Regions from separate parts of the Homo sapiens genome. Here region 1 is linked to region 2. Evidence: fine-mapped expression QTL. Tissue or cell type: fibroblasts. Region 2 holds a variant in brackets; the other region holds the start of a gene. All regions are shown on one strand. Distances are between the middles of the regions.

The links. PIP is the estimated chance that this variant, and not a neighbour inherited with it, causes the effect.
Region 1: it holds the start of SLFN5, and the variant in region 2 is fine-mapped to the expression of SLFN5 in fibroblasts (GTEx, PIP 0.95).

The regions. Positions count from the first base shown.
Region 1 is chr17:35,241,787-35,244,429 of GRCh38, forward strand. SLFN5 (schlafen family member 5) reads left to right here and starts at 1,286. Exons shown (of 5, transcript NM_144975.4): 1 at 1,286-1,357. It overlaps LOC105371932, which reads right to left and starts at 2,365. Exons shown (of 4, transcript XM_047437262.1): 1 at 2,325-2,365; 2 at 1,136-1,433; 3 at 840-1,039; 4 at 1-184. The coding sequence starts at 2,365. RefSeq lists enhancers at 1,038-1,097, 1,618-1,727, 1,701-2,329.
Region 2 is chr17:35,269,371-35,272,214 of GRCh38, forward strand. It overlaps SLFN5 (schlafen family member 5), which reads left to right. Exons shown (of 5, transcript NM_144975.4): 5 at 1-2,844. Among named protein-coding and RNA genes, the nearest start is that of SLFN5, 28 kb to the left of the region's middle. The variant G/A (reference allele first, on the strand shown) is at 1,672.

The DNA of each region.
Region 1 (2,643 bases), 28 kb before region 2:
TGAGTAAGACTTCCAGCGCCCCGGCCCAGACTGCGACGACCCAGACTGCGACGACCCAGTCTGCGCCTGGCGCAGGCTCCATAGACGGCTTTTCTTCAGCTCTGTCCACTGAGACCTCGAGCCCTTGAGCAGAAGATGGGAGAGAGAGGGTCTTGCTGGGCGGGCTCCAGAAGTCCTCCTGGCTCTGGGCGCAGGAGTTGGAAGAGAAGAGATAGAGAAACATCTACTCACCAGAATTGTAAACTGGAAGAAGGGTAGAGGAAAGGTGCCTAGAGAGGGCAGCTGGAATCAGGATTGGGCTGAATATTTTAGGAGTCCCCAAGTGCTACTTCTATCCGCTGGGAGCACGGGTTCGAATCTGCCCCCAGGCAGCCCGCTCCTGGTTCTCTTGTCCCCCTGTGCTGCGGCGGGGCCCACTTCGGCCCTCGGGTTCCCCGCACAGGCCACACAGGGCAGCAGCGCGCGCCGTACCCACGGGCAGTTCGAGAGGGCCGCGCGTGGCGGAGCCAGGCCCTTCGCCAGCGCCCAGTACAAATTTAGTACTAGAATTAAGAGAAACACACTGAAATCTGACAGCCCCGCCTAAGACCCGGGCGTGAGGAAGTCTGCGGTGGGTGATGAATACAAAGAACAGTTTCTCTTTCCTGTCAGTAAAACGCTGTTTCCAGAGCCTGCCAGGTTTCGCCCCAGTGGCCACACCTATGCCTGGCAGGTGCTGGTCCGAGCCCCTAGCGCCAGCAAAAGAAAGGAGGCGGACGCAACATTCTCGAATTACTAGGAGAAGGAGGGAGGCTTTCCCTTCCCCCCAGTGCCCCATGTACCAACGCGTCTCGCCATACCCCTTGCCCCTCTTCCAGCAGCTGACGGAGTAATTCGAGTAGGAATCGAAAGATTTGGAGGCGCCGGGGGAGAAACCTGCGGAGCGCTCTCCGAGCCTGTGGCGTCCCAGGAAGACTCCGAGCGGGGCCAGGGAAGTTCTCTGGAGGACATGGGGTGGATACCCAGGTCTCCTTCCCTGGGTGAAATAAGAACTGAAAATCTAAAAATAAAATAAATAAAATAAAATAGAAAACACAGAGAAGCAACAAAAAAGCGCTTCCCCTCCTCAGTTCTCCCCAGTCCACCCAAGGTTTACCAAGACTGTTGTAGTTGCAAGAGTGGGCTTCCGGCTCCACGTAACGATGCGATTGGGCTGTACCTCTGTCTGTCTCCTGCGCGATGTCCCGCCCCGGGAGGTGTCACGGAACTCAGCTGATATAAGCCCGGGATCCCGCCGGGTCAGGTTCTCTGCTCTGGACTTGGGAGGCTCCGTTGCCTGCTCCCGGAGGGAGACGCGCTGCCGAGGAGAACCCAGCGGGTAATGAATCCCCCGCGCTTCTTTGCCCAGGCCTTCCCCAAACCTCCCCCCGGTCTGCGCGGGTTCTCCTATTGGGCTGTGGTGAAGACAAGGTGCGGCGACTGCAGCTCCCCAGGTCTGGGCGCTGCCGGGAGAGAGTCTTTCCCGCTGGGGAGATTTAGTTTGTTGACTCAGGAGCACCTCCAACGACAGCTAGTGGCAGAGGACCCGGGAGCTGGGAGGTTCGGAACGCGGGGCGAGCTGGGGAGGAGGGAGAGGCGCCGACCCAGCGCAGCCTACATCTTAGCAAACCAAACCTGGCAACATTTCCCCACGGTTCAGGAGCACGAAGGACTTAAGGGAAAACGACGAAATCGGGGCTCCCGAGGATGAAGTTAAATGGGTTGTGGCCTGGGGACAAATAGGGCCAATGTCCAGTCTATTACAAGAGGCTTTGTTCCAGAGGCTTGCCTATAAGCCCCTGGCTTGGAACGTCAGTCTTCAAACTGTAACAACAGGGGCAGGCTACTAGGGTAGCCCACAAAGCCCTGTATCCCCCATACAGTGACTAACTAGAGCCCTAGTTGGTCATATCCGCAGTGGCTGAGACTGCGGTGTGATTCCGTTTCCCTCTTGCATGTGTCCCGGGAGCCCGAGTTGTCGAAGCCCAAATTCAGGCTCAGGAACCTGATGTGCTGTTGATGCCAAACACTGACACACAGATGCTTGGAGACAGAGGAAGATTTATTCCATTTGGCCAAAGCGAGAAGGCAAGAGGTCAAGATCTCTCAAATCCACCCTAACAAAAAGAAGTAGTGGGGAGTTTTTATGAGACCAGGAAGTAAGGGAGGGGGAATTTCAGGGAACCTCGGGGAAAAGTCTTTCTTCGTCTCAGATTACATCTTGAACCACCAGACTTCTGGGCGTCAGCAGCTGGTCACAATGCCCTTAAAGGCATTCATTCCTTCTGCAAAATTTTTTTCTTGACTCTGAAGCTATATCCTCCTGCTTGACAAAGAAACGGTGCATCAGCAGTTTATAATTATATTGCTAGAAAAAGGAATATTGGGCAAAAAGTGGGTAGTTAACATATGCAAATAAGCAAGGGCCTCATCGGAATTTTCATGGTTTCATCACTAAAAATGTTGGGGTGCTGAAATCTTGAGGGGCTCGGTTGCACCAGAAGGGGATCCTTTGTCACTAGTGCAGGCAGGAAGGGATGCTTGAGGGAGGATGGGGGGAACTTTTCAATAGTTCCTCCCCTCCCCTACCAATAGCGGGTGGGAGGGCGTTGGTTTAGAGCCAAG
Region 2 (2,844 bases):
TATATAGGAATTATAATTACAGAAAAGAATGTTACAAACCTTCACAAAGTAAAAATATTTTTATATCAGATAGATTCTTCTGTTTCAATCCATAAAACCAGGGTTTGGATCATTTTAAAAAAACAAACAAAAATAATTTATTGGAATCATTAGGGAGGACCTGATAGAATAAAATGACAAGCTGACCAAATAGGCCTTAGAAGGGAGAGGTGCCTGGGCAGTTACAAGGACCTAGGTAGCAGGGGTGACTTGGCCACAGTCATTTTCTTTACTTGATTTAAGGAGGTTAAATTACAGTGAGAGAGTTGCACTTATTTAGTTTGCATACCGTACTCAACTCTTAGCTAGCATAGGGCAGGTTCCTTAGTTGAAAAATTTCCACAAAACATGATGTAAAGTGGAAAGATCAGTTCCCCCAAAGAATATCAGTTACCAAAGTAGGATGAAAGGATGTTGGGTAGATCAAAACAACAAATGTCCATTACAGCAATTAACAAAAGTTAGGGAGTGGGGAAGTCTGAGTGCTAATATGGATTTCAAAACAACTTTAAAAATGGCTTCAAACATTTTATGCTTTTTGTAATTTAGTCATTTTAATATTAGATAAATCTTCCTGTAACTGAAAGTTCTTGAGTTAAAGAAAAATATTCGGTAGTTCAGCTCTTCCTTCAATTTTATTAGTTGCTTTTTCTTTTGTTCAAGTGAAATAAACATAAAAATAATTTTAAAATATTATGTATCATATCCTTCGATTTAACATAATTCTATCTAGCTGTTCTTATATTTTCTCTGATATATTTTTAAAAGCTTTCTGGAATATTATTAACCTTGAATATTTCTAGTTGATGAGTTTATGAGTGATTTATTGCTTCCTTTTCTCTTTCAGTATTGCTAGAATTAATTTTATTGACTTTGCCCCTTTGCATAAAGACCTTGAAGGTCACATGCTGAAATCGCCCTCTACTAAAACAAACTCATAGAAATAATGGGGAAGATATTTCAAAACATTGCCATATGCATAGCCATCCTCACAACCAAGAAAAGCGCCTCTCCATGAACTAAAACCTATGAGTCATTGGTACAGGTAGGGAAAATCTAGGTAAACCACGGTAATACACTGAGGCTGGCACCACCACAGGCCAGGACAACCGTTGTCACAAAGCCAGGACAGAATCTCCCAGCCAGAAAGTGTTGCCCTGAGGCTGAAGCCAAATTCATTTTGCCCCCAGTTGGCCAGACCAAAGCCTAGAACTAAAAAACCCATACCTCAGGGTTTGTCAGCATTGGCACTGCTGGCTTTTTGGGCTGGACAACCATTTATTGTGAGAGGCTTCTCTATGCACTGTAGGATGTTTAGCAGCATCCTTGGCCCTACTCCCTAGACGCCAGTAGCAAATCCACCACCCTCCCTCCCCTACCCCAGGGTTGGTTGTCAGTTGTGACAACCAAAAATGTCTCCAGACATCGCCAAATGTCCCTTGGGGGGTAAAATCACCACCACCATACCTCTTTTGACTAAAAGAGTTTCCAGAATAGTGGCAGAATATATAGGTCAAGCATAACACATTACAATCAAGATTCAGAACATCAAAGATTCTTTTTTAATCCTAAAAGAAAAAGTTTGGAAAATCTACAAAAAGAAGTGTGAATTTGACAATAACTATTTCACTA[G/A]CAAGGGTAGACGTAAGCAGAATACAGGTAGCATATTCAAACTGCTGTGGAAAAACAACATCAAACCTAGACTTCTCTCCCCAAACTATCATTCAGAGTCGAGGGCAAAATAAATAGATTTTCTGACTTGGAACAAGTAGGAATAATGTACTTATAGTATTCATCTTCATACAGGGATGGACTATAAGTGATTTTTAAAAAACTTCCTACTTGTTCCAAGTCAGAAAAACTATTCATATAGGGATGGGCTATTAGCAAGAGTATATGAATAACGTACTATAACAAGAAAAAATGAATTGAGAAGAAAGTAGTGGTTTTAAGAAGGAAAGGAGAACAAATAAATTAGTGAAACATAAGGTTAAGTCTATACATATTATTTTCTAATTGCCTATTATGTCAGACTACATGTAGTTAGAAAATACGATGAAAGAAAAAGCCATATTATAATTCCAACAAAAAGATAAAATAATTAAGAATAACTGCAACAAGAAAATATAAGTTCTGCAACAATAAAACTATACAATGAAACTAAAGAGCACAAAAAAGAACTTAAACAGATAAAAAGCAGACCACGTTTTTGGATAAGAAGATTAAAAATTATAAATATATCAATTTTCACTGTTAATCTATAAATTCAGTGTAATCCCAATAAAAATGCCAACAGGTTTTCCCCAATAGCATTGAAATGATTTTAAAATTTAATGAAGGCCAAGCATGGTGGCTCACTCCTGTAATCCCAGCACTTTGAGAGGCCGAGGCAGGTGGATTGCCTGAGTCCAGGAGTTCCAGACCAGCCTGGACAACATGGTGAAATCCCGTCTCTATTTAAAATGCAAGAAATTAGCTGGGTGTGGTGGTGTGCACCTATAGTCCTAGCTACTCGGGAGGCTGAGGTGGGAGAATCACCCAAGCCTTGGGAGGTCGAGGCTGTAGTGAGCCAAAATCACATCACTGCACTCCAGTCTGGGCAGCCAGAGTGAGACCCTGTCTCAAAAAAAAAAAAATTATTGGAAACTACGAGGCAAGAATATCCAAGAAAAATCTAGAAAAGAAGAAACCTGAGTGAGTCAGCATGACCAAATATTAAAACATCTTATAAAGCTACAATAATTAAAACAATGTGGTGCTGATATGTGGAGGGTCAATGGAACAAGATGAAATGGCCAAAAATAA